Regions from separate parts of the Homo sapiens genome. Here regions 1, 2 and 4 are each linked to region 3. The links come from fine-mapping of genetic effects on gene expression. A gene starts in region 3. Each other region holds a variant in brackets. All regions are shown on one strand. Distances are from middle to middle.

Region 1 (5,239 bases), 76 kb after region 3:
ATTGACTTCTCCTCTCTAACTTTGCAAGTTCTAGAGGGCATTTTCTTCCAATAAAAGGCTGTTTCATTTACATAGACAATCTGTTGTTTAGTGTAGCTACCGTTTTAGTTTGTTCTTGCATTGCTGTAAAGAGCTACCTGAGACTGGGTAATTTATAAAGAAAAGGTTTAATTGGCTCACAGTTTCACAGACCGTACAGGAAGTATGGCTGGGGAGGCCTCAGGAAACTTAGAATCATGGTGGAAGGCAAAGGGGAAGCAGGGACGTCTTAGATGGGTGGAACAGGAGGAAGAGAGCAAAGTGGGGAGGTGTTACACACTTTTAAACAATCAGATCTCTTGAGAACTCACTATTGTGAGAACAGCAAGGGAGAAATCTGCCCCTATGATCTAATCACCTCCCAGCAGGCCCCTCCTCCAACACTGGGGATTACAATTTGACATGAGATTTGGATGGGAACACAGATCTAAACCATATCAGCTACCTTCATAAATTATCTTAGCTAGATCTTTTGGATAGTTTGCTGCAGCTTCCCTATCAGCACTTGCTGCTTCACCTTATACATTTATGTTATGGAGATGGCTTCTTTCCTTAATCCTCATGAACCAACCTCTGCTAGCTTCAGACTTCTTCTGCAGCTTCCTCACCTTTCTTAGCCTTCATAGAATTGAAGAGAGGTAGGACCTTGCCCTGGATTAGGCTTTGGCTTGAGGGAGTGTTGAGCTGGTTTGAACTTCTATCCAGAGCATTCAAACTTTGTCCATATCAGCAATAAGGCTGTTTTTGCCCTCTTATCATTCATGTGTTCACTGGAGTAGCACTTGTAATTTCGAAGCTTCAAGAACTTTTTCTTTGCATTCAAAACCTGGCAGGTGCAGGCGGTCTGGTTTTTGGCCTACAGAGACTATTGACATGCCTTTCTCGCTAAGCTTAATCATTTCTAGCTTTTGATTTAAAGTGAAAGATGTGCTACTCTTCCTGTCATTTGAACACCTAGAGGCCATCGTAGGGACATTAATTGGCCTAATTTCCATATTGTTGTGTCTCATCAAATAGGGAGGCCTGAGGAGAGGGAGAGAGATGAGAGAATGGCCAGTTTGTGGAACAGTCAGAGCACAAACATTTATCGATTGAGTTTGCCATCCTGTATGGGTGTCGTTTGTGGCATCCCAAAACAATTACAATAGTAACATCAAAGGTCACTGATCACAGATGACCATAACAGATATAATAATAATGAAAAAGTTTGAAATAATGAGAGAATTAGCAAAATGTGATGCAGAGACACAAAGTGAGCATGTGCTGCTGGAATAATGGCACTAATAGATAGACTTTCTGGACACAGTGTTGCCATAAACCTTCAGTTTGTAAAAAACATACTGTGAAGTGCAATGAAGTGGAGTGCAGTAAAACAGGAGTATGCCTGTACATGTAAACATGCTTTCTTTGGTGCTACTTCAGATACTTAGGAAGCCTTGACCATAGTCCAAGCAGATGAGTTTTGGTGCTTGAGTATTTTACCCCAGGCAGACTAGGAGAAGTTTGTGTGTGTGTGTGTGTGTGTGTGTGTTTGTGTGTGTGTGTTTGATAGTCTTTATTTATTTTGAGACAAGTTCTTGCTCTTGTCACTCAGGCTGGAGTACATTGGCACAATCATGGCTCACTGCAGCCTTGACCACCTGGGCTTAAACAATCCTCCCACTTCAACCTCTTCAGCAGGTGGGACTGCAGGTGCACACCACCATGCCCAACTAATTTTTGTATTTTTCATAGAGACGGGTTTTTGTCATGTTACCCAGGCTGGCCTCAAATTCCTGAGCTCAAGCAATATGCCTGCTTTGGCCTCCCAAAGTGTTGGGCTTGGAGGCGTGAGCCACTGTGCCTGGCCGATAGTATGTATGTATGTATGTATGTAGAGATGGAGTCTCACTCTGTTGCCAGGCTGGAGTGCAGTGTCGCGATCTCAGCTCACTGAAACCTCCGCCTCCTGGGTTCAAGCGATTCTCCTGCCTCAGCCTCCTGAGTAGCTGGGACCACGGGCGCATGCCGCTACACTCAGCTAATTTTTGTATTTTTAGTGGAGACAGACGGAGTTTCACCATGTTGGCCAGGATGGTCTCGATCTTTTGACCTCATGATCCTCCCACCTTGGCCTCCCAA[G/AG]TGCTTGGATTACAGGCATGAGCCACCGCACCCGGCCTAGTCTTTGTATTTTAGGGCAGTTTTGGGTTTACAGAAAATTGAACAAGTAGTGCAGAGTTCCTTCACGCCCCTAGTTTCCCTTATTATTAACACCTTAAATTCATATGGTACATTTGTTACATTTGGTTAATGCTGAGACATTATTATTAACTAAAGTCTGTAGTTTTTATTAGTGTTGTCCAGTTCAATGGATTTTGACAGATGCATAATATGTAGCCACCATTGCAGTATCATACAGAATACTTTCACTGCCCTAAAAATCACCAGCACCCCAACCTAGTCATTCCTGCTTGCCTCCCCCTCAGCCCTTGGTAACCATTGATCTTTTTACTGTCTCCATAATTTTGTCTTTTCCAGAATGTCACATAGTTGAGATCTTACAGTATTTTGGCTTTTCAGATTGGCTTTTGTCAATAATATGCATTTAAAGTTTCTTTGTGTTTTTTCACAGCTTGCTAGTTCATTTCTTTTTAGTGCTGAATAATATTCCACTGTCTGGATGTACCACAGTTTATTATCCATTCACCTACTGAATGACATCTTGGTGGTTTCTTGTTTTTGGTGATCATGAATAAAGCCACTATGACCATTCACTACAGGGTTTTGTGTGGTCATAAGTTTTCAGCTCATTTGGGTAAATACCTGGGAGTGCAATTGAAGGATCTGTGATATATTCTTGGTCCCAGCATCTCTCCTCCTGCTGACAATTACCCTCCTTATTGTGACAACCTAACCAGGCCTGCCTCTCCCAGGGCTTCCTCTTCTTCACTTAGAGCATTTTCTGAACAAGTCTGGACACAAAGGTCTTGCTTATATTTTCAGGAAAGAGTATTTAAAATACTTCTTAATCATGGTTCCAACTTATTTCAACTCTTATAATTAAGTGATCATTTTTTTTTTAAATTATGGTAGAATATGTGTATATAAGATATAATTTGTGATTTTAACCATTTTTAAGTATACAGTTCAGTTGTATTCATCATATTCACATCATTGTGTAACCATCACCACTATCTGTTTCCAAAACTCTTACCTGGGGATATGATCATTTTAAAAGAGGAATTTGAAGAAATACATCTGAAGCTATATTTGGCAATATGTTTCCATCAGTAACTCCCAAAATCTCAGTGGCTATTGGCAACAATCTTTATGTCTCCCTCATGTTATATATACATACATATATATATATATATATATATATATATATATATATATATATATATATATATATAAAATTTTCTTTTGTCTAGAACTTAGTCACATGGCCACATCTAACTGCAAAGGAGCCTGGGAGGTGTAGTCTAGCTACCTGCGTAAGAATAAGAACAAATTGGCTTGGCGATTTGTTAGCATTCCTGGCCATATTAAGTAAGATTATTAAATCATACACATTGTTAACTTGATCTTTCAGAGATGACATGACAGTAATTGTATGGTTTCATAGATCTGGCTGTGTTTCAGGAGAGCATTTTTCCATCCCATGCTCTCTTTCCATCTAAACGTTAATTATCTTATCCTTTTAACACTGAGAGAGCTTCCTGGAATAAATAAAATTATATGCCTATTTTGATAAATACCTGTTTGATAGCGATGTTTTATAAAACTCTGAGAAAAGTCAACAAGGAGCCTTCACAGTGATTAATACAGCAGTTATTATGGTCAGATGTTAAAAAAAATCTCATGTCTTCAGTCTTGTGCCAAAAGGCAAAGAAAGTTTTGAAGCTTTCCACACACTGATTTGGTTTCAAGATAATGGGCTACTATTGAGTTTACATGTAGCATTGGTCTTCTGCTATTGTCTTTATAAAGGAAAGTATGTGAAATTTGGAATTGGAAATGTCATTTCTTAACCAGAGTAGCAGGTTCAGATGGTGAAGCTATCACTTTTGGCACAGGACTCTTGTTTCTTAATAAAATTTAATGAAAAATTGACAAGATTTGTGCAGTGTATATTTTTTTTAATGGTTGACCCACTGAATGCATCTAATTAGCTTATTACAGTTTAAAAGCAAGTTTAACTGCCTAAATGTATGACTTGGTATTTTGATCTTGTTTGTTAGGTCTCAGCTTGCTGATGATAGAAGTTTGTGGTCCAATATTAATTTTAAATAAGTGCCTACTGTTCTCTAGAAACTCCCATTCCCTTAAGGAAAAGTGTTTCATATGAGCCTCTCATTGCCAGGAATAGCTGTGTAAGCATTGTGGAAGTTTTTTCCACATTAAAATGTAGTCCACCAGTTCATTTATTCCTTTTAGGGTTGTGACAGTCGCTTGTGTTTATGCACCCCTGTAGAGCTGTCTTTAAACTCATTCAGCAAATTGGAAACATTTAGCTTGGATGACACCTCTTTAATCTTCCAGTAATCTCACCATAGAGACCACTGTACTCTCAAATACATTGTTAATACTTTTAGTAAGAATGGCCTGCTTTCATTCTCTTATTACTGAGCCATTATTCTGGACTCTGTTTATTATTATTATTATTATTCCAGAGTCGAAATAATTATCCCGTTGAAAAGACCAAGCATGTGCACACCCTGTTGTGACACAGCCGGTTTTGTCCTATCTGAACTTGCCTGCTTTGTGAACTGTTAGGGTCTCAGAAAAACAAAAAACAAAATCTTTTATTTTTAACATTTAATTTTTTATAGTTTTTATATTTTTTAATTGAGACAAAATATATGTATATAATTTACCATCTGTACCATTTGAAATGTACACTTCCTTGGTAATAAATATATTCTTTATTCCCCCTTCCACCTTTATTCCATCCTTTATTCCTACCCCCACCCCTGCTCAACTCCTCCTCTTCCCAGCCTCTGGCAGTAATTTAAAGTGTGAGTGACAATCTCACCTCTTATAATTATGTGATCTTTTTTTTTTTTTAAATTGTGGTAGAATGTGTATAACACGGAATTTGTGATTTTACTCTCTCTTCACGAGATCTACAGTTTTTAGCTCCACTTGAGTGAGAACGTGTGACAGTTGTATTTCTGTTCCTAGCTTATTTCACTTAACATAATGACCTCTAGTTCCACCC
Region 2 (5,239 bases), 36 kb after region 3:
GCAGTGAGCCAAGATCGTGCCATTGCACTCCAGCCTGGGCAACAAGAGTGAAACTCTGTCTCAAAAAAAAGAAAAAAAAAAGAAAAGAGACGGGGTCTCATTCTGTCGCTCAGGCTGGAGTGCAGTAGCACAATCATGACTCACTGCAGCATTGAACTCGTGGGCTCAAGTGATCCTCCCGCCTTGGCCTCCCAAAGTGCTGGAATTACAGGCCACCCTACCTTGCTGAAATATTTAAATTCTGAAGGACCAAACTATCCCCTTCTCAAAGAACAATATGAACTAGCACCGTTATAAACTTGGTACTGCTGTAAGAGTCCTACTCCTGAGGGCTTCCACCCATCTTATTTTCATACTTATGAAAAATAATACATGTTCAAAGCAAATGAATCCAAACAGTATGCAATTAAAACTCAAACTCTCTTAGCCTAGACCCATTTCTCCCAGAGCGGCTGTTATGATCAGCCTCTGGGTGTCCTTCCAGAAATGTCTAGGCAGGTAATGTATACAATCACTTTAAAAGTTCAAATGGGAACATGTCATACACATTATTCTGTACTTTGCTTGTTTTAACTGACACGTATCTTGGATATTAAAAAAAAAATCTAACATATAGTTTCCATTTTTTAAGAAAAAAGCTTTATTGATATATAATTTGCCATAAATAATCACCATATAGTTTACCTTAAAATTCACTTGTTTTAAATGTACAATTCAGTGATTTCTAGTAAACTTACAGAGTTGTGCAGTGATCACCACAATCTAATTTTAGAATATTTTCATCACCCTGTGTCTATTTACAGCCACTCCACATCCCGTGCCCGCAGGCAAACACTTATCTATTTAGTTTCTATAGATTGATTTTATTACTCTTTTTAATAGCAACCTGTGGTCCATTTTGGAAAAATACAAACATGTATTTAATTGTGCTTTATCCAAGCACATTTAGCTTTTGCTGATGTTTTATTTTGCTGCCTGCCTACTTTAAAAAAAATTGGAAAAGATTGAAATTTTGTCTTTGAGCCATACTTGTTAAGAGTGATAAGGGAGTTTTAGCTGAAGTTGTTTGTAGATTTTCCAGTCATTACCTGTGGAACTAGGAGAAGAATTTTGGGGCCTGGATAATTATTTATATTTGAATAGAAACTGCCTGAGGTTGTTCTTGATTAGATGAAAGCCCCAGCATTTATTGTGTATTTTATGGATGTGGGTGAAGTGGAACTAAGTATTTACACATGATTGGGGTGAAGGGGGATTTATTATTTCAGTTTTTTGCCTTTGTCTCTACCTAGGAGGATTTTAGGAGCTGTTGAGTGTTCAGAAGTATGTCTTCGGATATATTCTCCATACTGTTTCTTGGGACCTTTTACTGGGTTGTGGATTTTGACCAAGTGTTTTTTTAAGAAGAACAAAGTAGTAGAACAGTATGAGACCAAAATGTCCTTCATGTTCTAATGGTGAGCACTGTTTTCTTTTTTTTTTTTTTTTTTTTTTTTTTTTGAGACAGAGTCTCGCTCTGTCGCCCAGGCTGGAGTGCAGTGGCGTGATCTCAGCTCACTGCAAGCTCTGCTTCCCGGGTTCCTGCCATTCTCCTGCCTCAGCCTCCTGAGTAGCTGGGACTACAGGTGCCCACCACCACGCCCGGCTAATTTTTTGTATTTTTAGTAGAGATGGGGTTTCACCGTGTTAGCCAGGATGGTCTCGATTTCCTGACCTTATGATCCACCCGTCTCGGCTTCCCAAAGTGCTGGGATTACAGGCGTGAGCCACCGCGCCCGGCCATTGTTTTCTTAAATGTCAACTTTTGTTTAAATGTGTGTGTGAGTGTGCTTGTTTTTTTTTTAACCTCAAAGACTGAAATTTTTTTTTTTAATTAATTAATTTATTTTTTATTATACTTTAAGTTTTAGGGTACATGTGCACATTGTGCAGGTTAGTTACATATGTATACATGTGCCATGCTGGTGCGCTGCACCCACTAACTCGTCATCTAGCATTAGGTATATCTCCCAATGCTATCCCTCCCCCCTCCCCCCACCCCACAACAGTCCCCAGAGTGTGATATTCCCCTTCCTGTGTCCATGTGATCTCATTGTTCACTTCCCACCTATGAGTGAGAATATGCGGTGTTTGGTTTTTTGTTCTTGTGATAGTTTACTGAGAATGATGATTTCCAATTTCATCCATGTCCCTACAAAGGACATGAACTCATCATTTTTTATGGCTGCATAGTATTCCATGGTGTATATGTGCCACATTTTCTTAATCCAGTCTATCATTGTTGGACATTTGGGTTGGTTCCAAGTCTTTACTATTGTGAATAATGCCGCAATAAACATACGTGTGCATGTGTCTTTATAGCAGCATGATTTATAGTCCTTTGGGTATATACCCAGTAATGGGATGGCTGGGTCAAATGGTATTTCCAGTTCTAGATCCCTGAGGAATCGCCACACTGATTTCCACAATGGTTGAACTAGTTTACAGTGTGCTTGTTAAGTAGTAATTATCAGAAATGTTGGAAAACCAGTGCCTTAAGAGTAAGGGTATATTCAGGCTTCCTCTTTGTCAGAGCTCTAACTCTCCTGGGGGGCAGGTAGGCTGGGGCAGGTAGGGTGAGAAGACTCAGGTAGTTCACCGAGATAAAACTTTGTTGAGGTTGGCTGGGGAAGTGAGCCAGTTGTCTTGGGAAGTGGGAGGTGAAAATGAAACTCCCTGTGTGACCACTTTTCTCTATCAAAAATAATAAATTATTTCAAATGTTCTAAATAAGGAGGCTTTGGATAGATTTTAGTCAGCTTGTTAGCTATTCAATTCTGGCAACAACCGTGTGTACATCTAGACTAGGGAGACGTTTACAATTAAATTCACTGGGTCTTGTGGTTGGAAGTAACCTGAAGGGATATCTATGCAAGTTTCCATCCTGTGTGTGCATCCCTTCTGTAATACCTCTGCCTGGCAGTTCAGCATCTGCACTTGC[G/A]TACGTCTCCTGGAAGGGAATTCATGAACTCTCTTGGGATCCCAGTTCTTGTCAGCTTCTTCATGTTGAAACCCTCAGGCTTCATATATCTCAGGGTTTGGATTGGCATTAGTTATCTATCGCTGTGTAACAAATTACCTCATCATTAAGGGGCTTAAGGCAACAAATATTTATTATGTCAGGAACAAGTCAGGAGTCTTGGAGCAGCTCATCTGGATGGTGTGGCTCAGGGCCTCTCGTGAGACTGTGGTCAAGTTGACAGTTGGGGCTGTCGTCATTTGGAGGCTGAATGGACTAACGGATCCACTTTCAACACGGCTCCTGCACCTAGTTGCTGGCAGGAGGCCTCAGTTCCTACTGTGTGGACCTCCACTTGGAGCTGCCTGAGTGTCTTCATGACACACTCTCTCTCGGATCAGAAAGGAGACATTAGTAATGCCAAGGATACTCCTTTACTCCCTTCACAAGTGGGCACAGATATGGTCCTTTTTCCACCAGCTCTAGAAAGAAACATGCAGAGATGTTTGAAGGCAAGAAGACAGTGGCCTGCATGACTTGGAGCTTTTCTTAATTGTAAGTCAGAGATAATAATTAATGTCATGCCTAGTTCAGAGAATTATTGTGTGACTCAAATGAGATGATGAGCATTAAGACATTGGAAACTTTAGGTACTATATGAATGTTTTCTTATTGGGGCAAACCATTTTCCTCTTGTAAAGGTGAGCCCAGGGACATGTCTCTCCCCCATCTCTATACTATCAGTTCTGATCTTTGAATGATTGCAGTGCCCCTCATAGGGTTGGGTAAGGACCAAGGCAGAGAATATGTAGATAATGCAGCACAGTACCCGGCACATAGTAAGCATTCAGTTAACAGCTACAATTACTTAATGGTTTTGAAATAGATATGCCAGGCACTAAAGAAAATTAATTGATAAATGAAATAACTACTGCTCCTAAGCTGTGGCCGTGGATTAGAATCACCGTGTCTGCCATGTCACTGACTCTACAGAATACTGTATATGGAAAAATGGTTTTTATTATTTGTTATTTTCTATATTTGGATGACATTTCTGATCTGAATTTCAACCGTGACTTCTAGTCCTCTGTATCTTCTTCTTATTCTGACTTGCTACAATATAAACTTCATCCTTTAAAGAAAAAGTGACCCTGTTATTCTTCCTTGGGGTGTTTTGAATATCCTCCCCCTCCTTGCCCAGCTTCCCTCAAATGTGCCAACAATTTTTTTCTTTTCTTTTCTGTTTTTTTTTTTTTTTAGCATCAGCGGTACCATCAAGTTCCTGGACTCTTGAACTTGATGAAATCGAGATAGTTTCTGTAGGGCTCCATTTGGAATTGAGGAGCAGGTGTGGTCTAGACCTAAGGTCCAGTGGTGGGAGGAATGGAAAGAAGAAATGGAGCCAAAGGAAACTGAGGGAAGGATTCATGTTTCTCTGGCTCAGTGAGTGGGTGGGTCAAAGAAATAAAATGTTTGTAATTGGTTTTAAGCCTGGGCAACTGGAGAAAGTGGTGGTAGTGTTAATAAGAGACCAGGAGGAACACAAAGAGGAAAGAATATCTGGTTTTGGAGGGAAGAAGGAAAATTCAGTTTTGATTCTGAATTTGAGGGGGGTTGGCATCCACCAGACAGCTAAACATGGAATATGGCCCATGGGTGGTGGTAGCAGTCCTTGCTGCTATTCCTGGAACCTCTCAGAGGGTCAATCACAGGCTGTCACCGTTTGCCTAAGTGGTATCCTAAGAAAATGTCTGAAGTGGTCCAGGAAGAGGGGCCGATAATTATTGAGTAAAGGTAAAGGGAACACACATTATTAGACTGGTGCTTTTGAATGTCATATTTATTCTTAATAGCAACTATATGAGTTATATGTGCATACCTGGTTTTACAAATGCAGGAAAAAAGGACCGGAGTGACCAGGTAAGCTATCCAAGGTTATGCAGCTAAGAGGTGTTGGAGCCAGGATTTGAACTCTACACTCAGTTTTCATCAGTGAACAGATTTTCCTTTTACATCAGCATCAGAAGCATTATGGCTGGCTGAACTGATAGAGAACTAGCAAGTATGGACTCAAAAGTGGCATGGGGACCCCTTAGTAATTAATTACTGAGGGTAACTAAACTCCAGGTAACCTTTTGCCCCTTCCTTTCTTCCAGCCATTGGAAGAACGTCCTCATGTGGTACAGTGTCAGGCAGGAGACCCATGTTTCTTTCTCTGAATCAATAGTGGGTGGCACAGAA
Region 3 (5,239 bases):
TCTGCCGTCCTTGGCTTGTGAATTTCTTCCTCGTGTTTGCAAAATGGCTATTGCCCCTCTAAGCAGGAATGGGAAGGGTGAAGGGCCAAGTAATGCTGCCAAGTCTGTCTTCTTTTTAAATGCTTTCTTGGAGATTCCAATTAGTACAGTTTGCTCACATCTCATTGGACATTAATGAGAGAGACCCACCTCCAGCTGCAAGGCAGTTTGAAGTGCCCAGTGTTTCAGCTGGGCACATTGCCACTCCAAACAATATTTAGGTTATCTTAGGAAGGAAAACAGGAAGGCTGTTTATCAGGTAGGCTATTTGCCATCTCTGCTGCATGTGAACTACTCTATAAGCTCTTCAAAAGATAAGACTTTTTTTCCTTTCAGCATACATAACAAGTTCATCACTATATAGTAAGTTAAACAGATACAAACAATAAATATTTGTAACGGACACTCACGTTCAAGTGCTATTTATTTGTCCACAAATTAGTACATTGAGAGATTGTCTCTCCAGATGTTTATTTCTATACAATAGATCTCAGCATCAGCTAGTCAAAAATTCTTTACCACATACAGAATTTTCTGCTGATGCCAAAATTTACCTTTATGTTACATTAAAAATTTTTTAAAAAATATTGCACCTTTTTGGGCTCAAGCAATCCTCTTGCCTTAGCCTCCTGAGTAGCTGGGTTTACAGGCAAACACCACCATGCCTGGTTTAAAATTACAATATTTATTAATTGCATGGTAGAATTAAAGGATGCAGAGATGACCAAAATAATCTTTGCCCACCTGGAACTTTTTTTTTTTTTTTTGAGATGGAGTCTCACTCTGTTGCCCATGCTGGAGTGCAGTGGCGTGATCTCAGTTCACTGCAACCTCTGCCTCCCGGGTTCATGCCATTCTCCTGCCTCAGCCTGCCGAGTAGCTGGGACTACAGGCGCCCGCCACCACACCTGGCTAATTTTTGGTATTTTTAGTAGAGATGGGGTTTCACCGTGTTAGCCAGGATGGTCTCGATCTCCTGACCTCGTGATCCGCCCGCCTCGGCCTCCCAAAGTGCTGGGATTACAGGCGTGAGCCACCGCGCCCGACAATTTTTGTATTTTTAGTAGACACAAGGTTTCACCATGTTGGCCAGGCTGGTCTCAAACTCCTGACCTCAAGTGATCCACCCGCCTTGGCCTCCCGGAGTGCTGGGATTACAGGCGTGAGCCACCGTGCCAGGCCTGTTTTTTGATTTTTTTAATAGGCCATTTTAAGGACTTTACCACCTGGAGCTTGTAACCTAATAGGACTGTGAAACATACACTGGTAGCATCCTGGCACCAGTGCTGGGGTGAGTGCCACAGGAGAGGAGCCAAGTGCAGTCAGAGTAGAAGGACTCAAATAGAAGAGATCACATCTGGTTGAGTCAAACAGTAAACGTCCCCAGAAGACACTGGAAGATGCAGGCTGGAGAGAGCTACACTTTACATACAGCACGACAGTATAGAGATATTAATAGCATACAGTCACTTCAGGTAACTACAAGTAATTTTAAAACATCTGAATAAGTGCTTCTTTGTTGTCTGTGGAGTGCTACACAATGCTTCGGCCTAAACGTCAAGCAACACAGAAAAGAAGCCCCACTTCATTTGCAGCCTCAGATAGCTTACGAAATTGAGACACCACCTGAAGACCATGACCCATACAATCAAAGTGACTTCATGGAAGACGAGTAACTGCAAAACCCTGTGAAAACAGATTGTTAACGCTACTAATGAAAAGAACTGGATTGTTACGGGAACCTCAAACTGTCCTTTGATCAACGGACATGACGCCTCAACACGCATTTTCCAAAGATCTCTGCTGATAATTCTGACCTTCGGTTAATTTAATTAATTTCATTTGATTTAATTCATTTTAGTGTTGTCCTCAGTCCCGCACTCAAAACAGATTTTTATTATATGAAAATCTTCCTAGTCACCTAAAAAATCCGCATTCTATGGAAAAGACTATATAATTTTTCAAGAGATTCTTTGCAATTTTCACCTATGCTGGTTTATGACCTAGTTAGAGAAGACATCATAGGGCATTATTTAGGTAATAAAATACAGAGAGAAAAGAGCCACTGGCATTTCTAAATAACGTTCCTGTGTTTCCTACTGTAAGTATAGGAAAGTAGGTGTTCGCAGATGCAGAGAAAGGGCATCTCCAAGGCCTCGGAGGAAACTTTTGATTTTATAAATAACTTGATGGTGGAAGGCAAACGCCATCCCGGTTCCCAAGCAGGCTCCACGCAGCCTCCATGGCCGAGTCCATCTCCTCGCCGTCCTCTTCCCTCCTCCCGGCCGACTTCCAGCCGGTGCGGGAGTCGGGGTGCGCCCGGCCCTCCTAGCGCTGCGCCGCCCGCGCCGACGTGGCGGAGCGCACAGGTCGACCGGGTCAGGTGGTTGGGTGACGCCCCAGGAAAGCGCTCCAGGCCGAGGGCGGGCGGCGCCGCCGCGCCCGACGCCTCTGGGGGTGGGGACTTCGCGGGAGTCGCCGGCGGAGGCGAGGAGGAGCTCTGCGCGGCGCGGCGGGCGATCCGAGCCGGGACGGGCTGCAGGCGGGGGTGCTGCAGAGGACACGAGGCGGCGGGCTGGAGACATGGACCGCGGCGAGCAAGGTGAGGGCGCGGACCCAGCGGGCTTGGGCTCGGGCTTGGACTCGGGCTTGGACTCGGGCTTTGGCTCGGCGCGGGGCTGAGCGCGGCCCGGCGGCTCGAGCAGGTGCCGAGCCTCCTGGGCCGGCGCCGCAAGTTGCATCTCCCGGATCCGGATCTGGCATCCTGGGGCCCTGGAAGGAGCGGCTCTGGCGGGGGCAGATGGGACTGCATGTGTGAGTGTGAGTGTGCGTGTGTGGGGGAGAGGGAGAGAAGGTTCTGGGAGGTGGCGAAGGGGCTAGCGTCAGGGGCTGGCGGCCGTGATGCGCTTTGGGTGGAAAGCCGCGTGAAGGGAGCACGGCGCAGCCAGCTCCTGTAAGTGACTGGAACCAGGAACAGAGGACAGTGAGTCGCTCTCGTCCCTCCAGGTGGGAAACCCCTCTCTCCCTCATAAATTAAGACTTTCTGCCTTCTTCTAAGTTCAGGTGGTTAGGATTTTTGGTGGCGTATGACCCATGGGGGGTTTGGGAGGCAGATATTTATCATACTAGAAACCCCCAGATTGTGGAGTGGTGTCTGTGGGTTTGAGGGAAGAGAGCTTTTCGTAGGAAGGGTGAAATCCCACAACACAAAACCTTCAGTCTAATTTACCATAGCGTTGGGTGCACTTGCTTCTGAAAACAGCTCAAGTGAAATTACCCCCAAATAGAGCAATAGTAGGCCATGGTTTTCAGATTTAAATAGTTTCATCCTAGAGATCTCTGCTGATCATAAGCCTGTGACTGTACGCAGATGTGTGTGGCACGCTTTTAAAAAGATACATAAATGCTGAAAAAAGAAAACAAGGTAGGTAATCTTGGGAAGTGAGGATAGGAATCACTCCTGTTTTGAGCCCTGACACAAGTTTTCATGTATTGCTTATTTTCCTCCAGTATGTGCCGTCATGTGTGCATTTTTATGTAAATCAAACCATATTCCAAATATACTATCTTGTACTTTATTTTTTTCAGACTCTGGTGTTTTTTTTGTTTGTTTTTTTGAGTCTCCACCTGTAGCCCAGGCTGGAGTGCAGTGGCGGGATCTCAGCTCACTGCAACCTCTGCCTCCCTGGTTCAAGTGATTCTCCTGCCTCAGCCTCCCAAGTAGCTGGGATTACAGGTGTGCGCCACCACAGCCCGGCTAATTTTGTATTTTTAGTAGAGACAGAGGTTTCTCCATGTTGACCAGGCTGGTCTCCAAGTCCTGACCTCAGGTGATCCACCCGCCTCAGCCTCCCAAAGTGCTGGGATTACAGGTGTGAGCCACTGGGCCAGGCCTGTACTTTACTTTCATTTACTTGTAAGATAGACTCTTTGGAGTCTTTCAGCTCTTTCCTCGCTCCCCTTCAGATTAATTTCAGACTTAACACAAGTGCTTACAAACATTACATACAATATGCTTTATATGTGTTACCTATGTGTATATATATATTATACATTACCTGTATAACGTATATATACACATACATATTATTATCTAAATTTTAAGCTTCTTGAGGTTAGAAACATTTCATCTTTGGTTGTCCTGAGTGGGATAACATGATGACTTGTACATAGTAGACATGCAAATGTTTGAGTTAGAAAGCTTGTCACATGTCTTGTATATATTGTTAGCCGGCTTAGGGGCCACCATGTAAGTCAGCATTATGTCTGTCTGGCTTTCAATGGGGGCGACGCAGGACGGGGGAGACATGACGACAAACGTGCCCATGTGTATTTGTATACTAATCTGTTACACACTGTCGTTTGACATAATGATGTTTTTAGAATAACTATGTTTGGTACTTGTCAAAGTAAATTAAACGGCTGTGTTTTACTTACGTGAGTGGAGTAACTAGTTTTAGTAGTGTTTGTGTTCTAGCTTGGGTGGTAAGAATCAACAGTCATTGGTAGCACTGCAGTATTCCAACTTCTTGTGTAGTTTTTATAGGACTAGTTTAAGTGTCTAATTCTAAGACATATTTTTTTCAAATCTTTATCTTGTAAGATGAGTCTTTTCGTGTCTATAATTTTCCCATATGTTCTTTGGGTGAGGTGGAGGACTCTGCTCCGAATGAAAGAAGAGGCACTGCCTTGGGAGGGTCAGTTCATTTACTCCAAAGCTTTGCTGTGTTAGAACAACGTGGCCAAGGCTGGGTGCGGTGGCTCACACCTGTAATCCCAGCACTTTGGGAAGCTGAGGCAGGCAGATCACTTGAGGCCAGGAGTTTGACCCCTGTCCAACAAGGTGGAACCCTGTCTCTACTAAAAATACAAAAATTAGCTCGGCGCGGTGGCACCGGCCTGTAGTCCCAGCTATTCAGGAGGCTGAGGCAGGAGAATCACTAGAAACTGGGAGGCAGAGGTTGCAGTGAGCTTAGATCAAACCACTGCACTCCAGCCTGGGCGACAGAGCGAGACTCTATCTCAAAAAACAAACAAACACAAAACAAAACCACCTGGCCATTCCTTACTCTTGCTTCCACCTGCCTACCTGCCTTTTCATCTTTATGTTACCAGTGCACACAGTAGGTGCTTAGAAATATGTGTTGACTGCCTAAGATGAGTGAGGAAAGTGTCCAAGAGCAGGCCCCAGCCATAGTAA
Region 4 (5,239 bases), 35 kb before region 3:
TCCATGAGATAGCAAAGGGTATAACAATGCCTGTGATGGAAGAAACACATTTGAGAAAGTCCTGCTGCTTCCTTGCTTCCTTATAAACACACACACACACACATACACACACACACTCACTTTCTTTCTAAGGGGCAGTGTTTTGAAGACAAGTCTGGACTGGGCTGAGCAAAGAGCTGGAAAGTACAATAAGATCCTGGAGGAATAACTCACCAAAAGGATAGGACACAGGGCTGGTGGGCTGGCTTCTGAACTTCCACATAGAGGGGAAAACAGATTGTTGGTGCAGGGTCTTAGAGTGGGGCCTCTTGGAACAAATACAGTTGACTGGCAAGCTTGAGTGCAGGGAAAAGATTTTTCAAGTGCATCTGAAAGCCAGTTCGATGAGAATCTTTTTTTTTGTTTTTGAGACAGAGTTTCACTCTGTTGCCCAGGCTGGAGTGCAATGGTGCGATCTCGGTTCAGTGCAGCCTCTGCCTCCCAGGTTCCAGTGATTCTCCTGCCTCAGCCTCCCGAGTAGCTGGGATTACAGGCATGCGCCACCACACTCGGCTAATTTTTTTGTATGTTTAGTAGAGATGGGGTTTCATCATGTTGGCCAGGCTGGTCTCGAACTCCTGACTTCAAATCATCTACCCACCTCAGCCTCCTAAAGTGCTGGGATTACAGGTGTGAGCCAGCGTGCCTGGCCTTTCAATGAGGAGAATCTTTAACAGACTGTGACATGGAGAAGGACTACTGTGGCCTGCAGAGGAGTTGGCATAAATAGCATTAGCCACATTGACAGTAGGACAGGAGTATCAGCCACATGGCTTGAGTCTGCCTGGGTTTCAGCAGGCAGCTACACCAAGCCTCCTGCTTAAATATTAATAGCACCAACAATAGCACAGTGATTGCAGAGTCATGAGCTGCTGGGGCAGCTGTTGTGATACAGCCCTGTTCAGGGGTACTTACCTGAGTTCCAGCCGCACTGAGAAGACAAGCTACTTCCAGGACATTGTTGGGACATGTTAGAAGGACTTTACAGCATATTTCCATATGTATCAGGGAGAAACAATGTGCTGAAGGATGATTCTCAAAGGCGGAACTTCACAAACTTTTAAACATCTTGGCACATATTAAATAGCAAATTTAGATTCTGCTCATAGCCAGAGATAGCCATCTTGGGAGCTCAGGCTGGTCCCAGCTCCATTTGATTATCCGAGGGCTGAGGGATTCAATATTGAGATTAGGGCAACCCATTTGGGCACATCAGTTAGAAAGCTGTGCTTAATGAACCCAGTAAATTCTTTGTGGGGAGACAAATATAAAAAAAACAAGGACATTTTCAGCAAAGCATAGATTCTAAAACTTGTTTTAAAATTTTTTTTCGGAAACTCTACTTACCTTGGAGGTAATATTTTTTTTAAAAAAAGAGATGAGTAAAACATTTTTGCAGATCAGTCTTAGCCATGTCCCTATATCTCAAGAACTTTCCAGGGTGGAACCATGGCTAATGGTTAGAAAATGAGAGGGGGCCTCTCCTCCCAGAAACCTGCCCTTCTACACCATTCTCAATAGTTAGATGGAGAGTCTGTCAGATGGAAAGAACCACCCAGCATGAGAACAATGGGCCCATCAAATATCCTTTAAGGGATGACCTTCACTGCAGCCAGCTTCTTCCAGGCCTCCAAGGTAAGAAAAGAGAGCTGGAAGTACTAACATCTAAGAGAATCCGGTGATTCTGCAAGTCAAGGAGGAGAATCATTCACAAAAGGGGTAGAAATAACTGGTTTAGAAGTGGTGCCAAGAAGAACTTGGGTGCTTAACTTCTACTGCTCCCCCTCCTTTCAGAGCCTCTGAGAAGGTTCAACGCCACCTGCTTCCTGACCAGTGTCAAATCCGGGCCATTACAGTCCCTGAACAGACCCTCCTCCATGCTATCTCCACCCTCTGTCTTGTGGCCTGATATTGACATTTTTGCCTAAAATCCAACTGGAGTCCTTGGATTTTCTGAAAAGCAAAATTTTAATATAAATACTAGATAGTATAACATGTCAATAACCAATAGTTTTCAAGCAGATGAAGTATGCTGTCCTTACCATGGAACTTATGGTCCTGAAGAGGCTTCACATTTGAGTTGCAAAATCTTCTTGGAGGAAATTCTCCTGAAAGAGCCTTGTAACTGCTCTGGGACATCTGTTTTCACAGGAGGCCAAGGGAGCAGGTGCATGAGCAGCTGAGAGGCGATGTCTTGTTTATAATGTAAACCCTCCATGGTTCACACTCCTCCAGACCCAGATTCTGGCCGAATAGCATGAAGATGAGTCATCAAAGAGGGATAAAGGAAAAACAAAGGGGAAATGAAGCAATATAATGGAGCAAAAAGAAATAAAATCAACACAACCAAAAATATCTAAAATGGACCCATAGGAGCCTAAAAGGATAACAGATTAGGATGGCTAGAGTCAATATTTGCCAATTCAACTTTAAGAATTAAAAAATGAGATATGTTGGAAGGCAAGTTTCCCATGTCTAATAAAATTTAGAATACTCATACCTTTTGACCAAGAAATATACTTCTTAGAATTTATTAATATATACCCATGTAAGAGACACAGAGTATATTATTAATAAGATGAATGTATGGCCAGGCA[T/C]GGTGGCTGAGGCAGGAGGATCACTTGAGTCCAGGAGTTTTGAGACCAGCTTAAGCAACATGACGAAACCCCCATCTCTACAAAAAAATACAGAGTTTTTTTATTTTTATTTTGTAGAGATGGAGGTCTTACTATGTTGCCCAGGCTGCTCTGGTTTAGAAGTGGTGCCAAGAAGAACCTAGGTGCAAAACTTCTACTGTTCCCCCTCCCTTCAGAGCCTCTGAGAAGGTTCAATGCCACCTGCTTCCTGACCAGTGTCAAATCTGGGCCATTACAGTCCCTGAGCAGTCCCAGGGACTGTTATGATATCCATTTAGTTTCCTTCAGTCAGGTTCTGTTTCTCAGACTTTCTTTGTTTCTTATTAACCTGTCATTTTTATGCCAGGCACGGTGGCTCATGCTTGTAATCCCAGCACTTTGGGAGGCCGAGGTGGACGTATCACCTGAGGTCATGAGTTGGAGAGCACCCTGGCCAACATGGTAAAACACCATCTCTACTAAAAATACGAAAATTAGCCAGGTATGGTGGTGCTACTTGGGAGGCTGAGGCAGGAGAATCGCTTGAACCAGGAGACGGAGGTTGCAGTAAGCTGAGATAGCGCCAATGCACTCTAGCCTGGGTGACAGAGCAAGACGCCGTCTCAAAAAAACAAAAAACAGAAACAAACAAAAAAAAACCTTGTCATTTTTAGAGTACAGGCTACTAACCATTTAATTATCCCCTGGTTTGGGTAAGTCTGATGTTTCTTCAGGATGTATGCTTTTTTATTGCAAGGAATACCATAGAAGTAATGATGTGGTTTTCTCATTACATTACATCGGAGGCACAGGACTTGTACTTCATTATTGATGATAACTTTTTTTTTTTTTTTGAGACAGGGTCTTACTCTGTTGCCCGGGCTGGAGTACAGTGGTACAATCATGTCTCACTGCAGCCTCAACCTCCCCAGGCTCAGGTGACCCTCCCATGTCAGCCTCCCAAGTAGCTGGGACTACAGGTGCACACCACCACACCTGGATAATTTTTGTATTTTTTGCAGGGATGAGGTTTCTCCATGTTGCCCAGACTGGCCTCAAACTCCTGGTCTCAAGCGATCTGCCTGTCTTGGCCTCCAAAAGTGCTAGGATTACAGGCATAAGCCTCCAAAAGTGCTAGGATTACAGGCATAAACCACCATGTCCAGCCCTGATGATAATATTTATCACTTGGTTAATGTGTTCACCAAGTTTCTTCACTATAAAATTAATTAATGATTACATTGTGTTCACTGATTAATAGTTAATTAGTACTTTGTAGTAATATGCCTTAATACTTTTACTATAAGGTAGAACATTCTCCCCATTTATTCATTCATTTTAAAATTTATATCACTATGTGTTCACATACATTTACTTTACTCTGAGGTTTAATCTGTAACACTTTTTTTTTTTTTTTTTGAGATGGTGTCTCGCACTGTTGCCCAGGCTGTAGTGCAATGGCACAATCTTGGCTCACTGCAACCTCCACCTCCTGGGTTCAAGCAATTCTCCTGCCTCAGCCTCCCAAGTAGCTGGGATTACAGGCACATGCCATCACCCCCAGCTAATTTTTTGTATTTTTAGTAGAGACGGGGTTTCACTATGTTGGCCAGGCTGGTCTCGAACTCCTGACCTTGTGATCCACCTGCCTCAGCCTCCCAAAGTGCTGGGATTACAGGCGGAAGCCACTGCACCCAGCCTCAATCTGTAACTATTACTACAAATAGTTAAATATTGTCCAAAATTGCCCCGGATTTGGCCAGTGGGAATTTCTTCAAACTGACTCCTATGTCCTTTTGACATGTACCCTTAAATCTTTTTGTTTTCCTTTTAGACACAGGGTCTTGCCATGTTGCCCAGGCTGGAATGCAGTGGTTATTCACAGATACCATCCCACTACTAATCAGCAAGGAAATTTTGATCTGGTCTATTTCTAGTCTGAGCCAGTTCACCCCTCCTTATGTAACCTGGTGGTCCTCTGCTCCAAGAGGTCACCATATTGATGTTAAACTTAGCACAGTCACCTGATTGGCATAGTGCACTACAACTCAGAACTCCTGGACTCAGTCATCCTCCTGCCTTAGTCTCCTGAGTAGTTGGAACCATGGGCACACACCACCATACCTGGCACCCTTCAGTCTTTGAGCTCTTCCTTACTTTCTGGCAAAACAAGATACGCCCAGGTCATCTTGTATTTTCCCTGTCACAGCCATAGAGAAAGCCATTTTTCCAAGGAGTACTGGTTCTTTTTATGTGACAATGGTATTTAGAAACCAAGATCTGGATGGTAGGTGTGTTCACTACTACCAGTGTGTCATTCCATCTAGGAACCTTTTAGGAGGAGCCTGAGTGACAATCGGTTTTACCGTTACATTTCTTCATTTTGCTCAGTGATACCTCCAAGATTGCTCTCTATGCCAAATAGCTTCTATTTGCCCCACCATATCCAGTTCCAGCCTTCTTTGTGTTGCTCTCTGCCCAGGAGCCTGAATGGTATGGACCATAATGATCATTGCCAAGTCCACTGTCATTCTGATTGGGTTCAGCCAGTGCAGAGCCTCAGTAAGAAAAAAAGAAGAAAGAGG

Evidence for each region. PIP is the estimated chance that this variant, and not a neighbour inherited with it, causes the effect.
Region 1: its variant is fine-mapped to the expression of TPD52 in whole blood (INTERVAL, PIP above 0.99).
Region 2: its variant is fine-mapped to the expression of TPD52 in naive CD4 T cells (Schmiedel 2018, PIP 0.95).
Region 4: its variant is fine-mapped to the expression of TPD52 in tibial artery (GTEx, PIP 0.94).

Annotation. Positions count from the first base shown.
Region 1 is chr8:80,092,623-80,097,861 of GRCh38, reverse strand. All of the region lies in intron 1 of TPD52-MRPS28 (TPD52-MRPS28 readthrough), which reads left to right. The region is part of intron 1 of TPD52 (tumor protein D52); the gene reads left to right. Among named protein-coding and RNA genes, the nearest start is that of MRPS28, 65 kb to the right of the region's middle. The variant G/AG (reference allele first, on the strand shown) is at 2,161.
Region 2 is chr8:80,132,785-80,138,023 of GRCh38, reverse strand. The region is part of intron 1 of TPD52-MRPS28 (TPD52-MRPS28 readthrough); the gene reads left to right. All of the region lies in intron 1 of TPD52 (tumor protein D52), which reads left to right. Among named protein-coding and RNA genes, the nearest start is that of TPD52, 36 kb to the left of the region's middle. RefSeq lists an enhancer at 3,431-3,480. The variant G/A (reference allele first, on the strand shown) is at 2,981.
Region 3 is chr8:80,168,827-80,174,065 of GRCh38, reverse strand. TPD52 (tumor protein D52) reads left to right here and starts at 2,502. Exons shown (of 8, transcript NM_001025253.3): 1 at 2,502-2,641. The coding sequence starts at 2,623. TPD52-MRPS28 (TPD52-MRPS28 readthrough) reads left to right here and starts at 2,502. Exons shown (of 7, transcript NM_001387778.1): 1 at 2,502-2,641. The coding sequence starts at 2,623. RefSeq lists a silencer at 2,341-2,670.
Region 4 is chr8:80,204,150-80,209,388 of GRCh38, reverse strand. All of the region lies in intron 2 of LOC105375920 (a long non-coding RNA gene), which reads left to right. It also overlaps the pseudogene RN7SL41P. Among named protein-coding and RNA genes, the nearest start is that of MIR5708, 35 kb to the left of the region's middle. The variant T/C (reference allele first, on the strand shown) is at 2,637.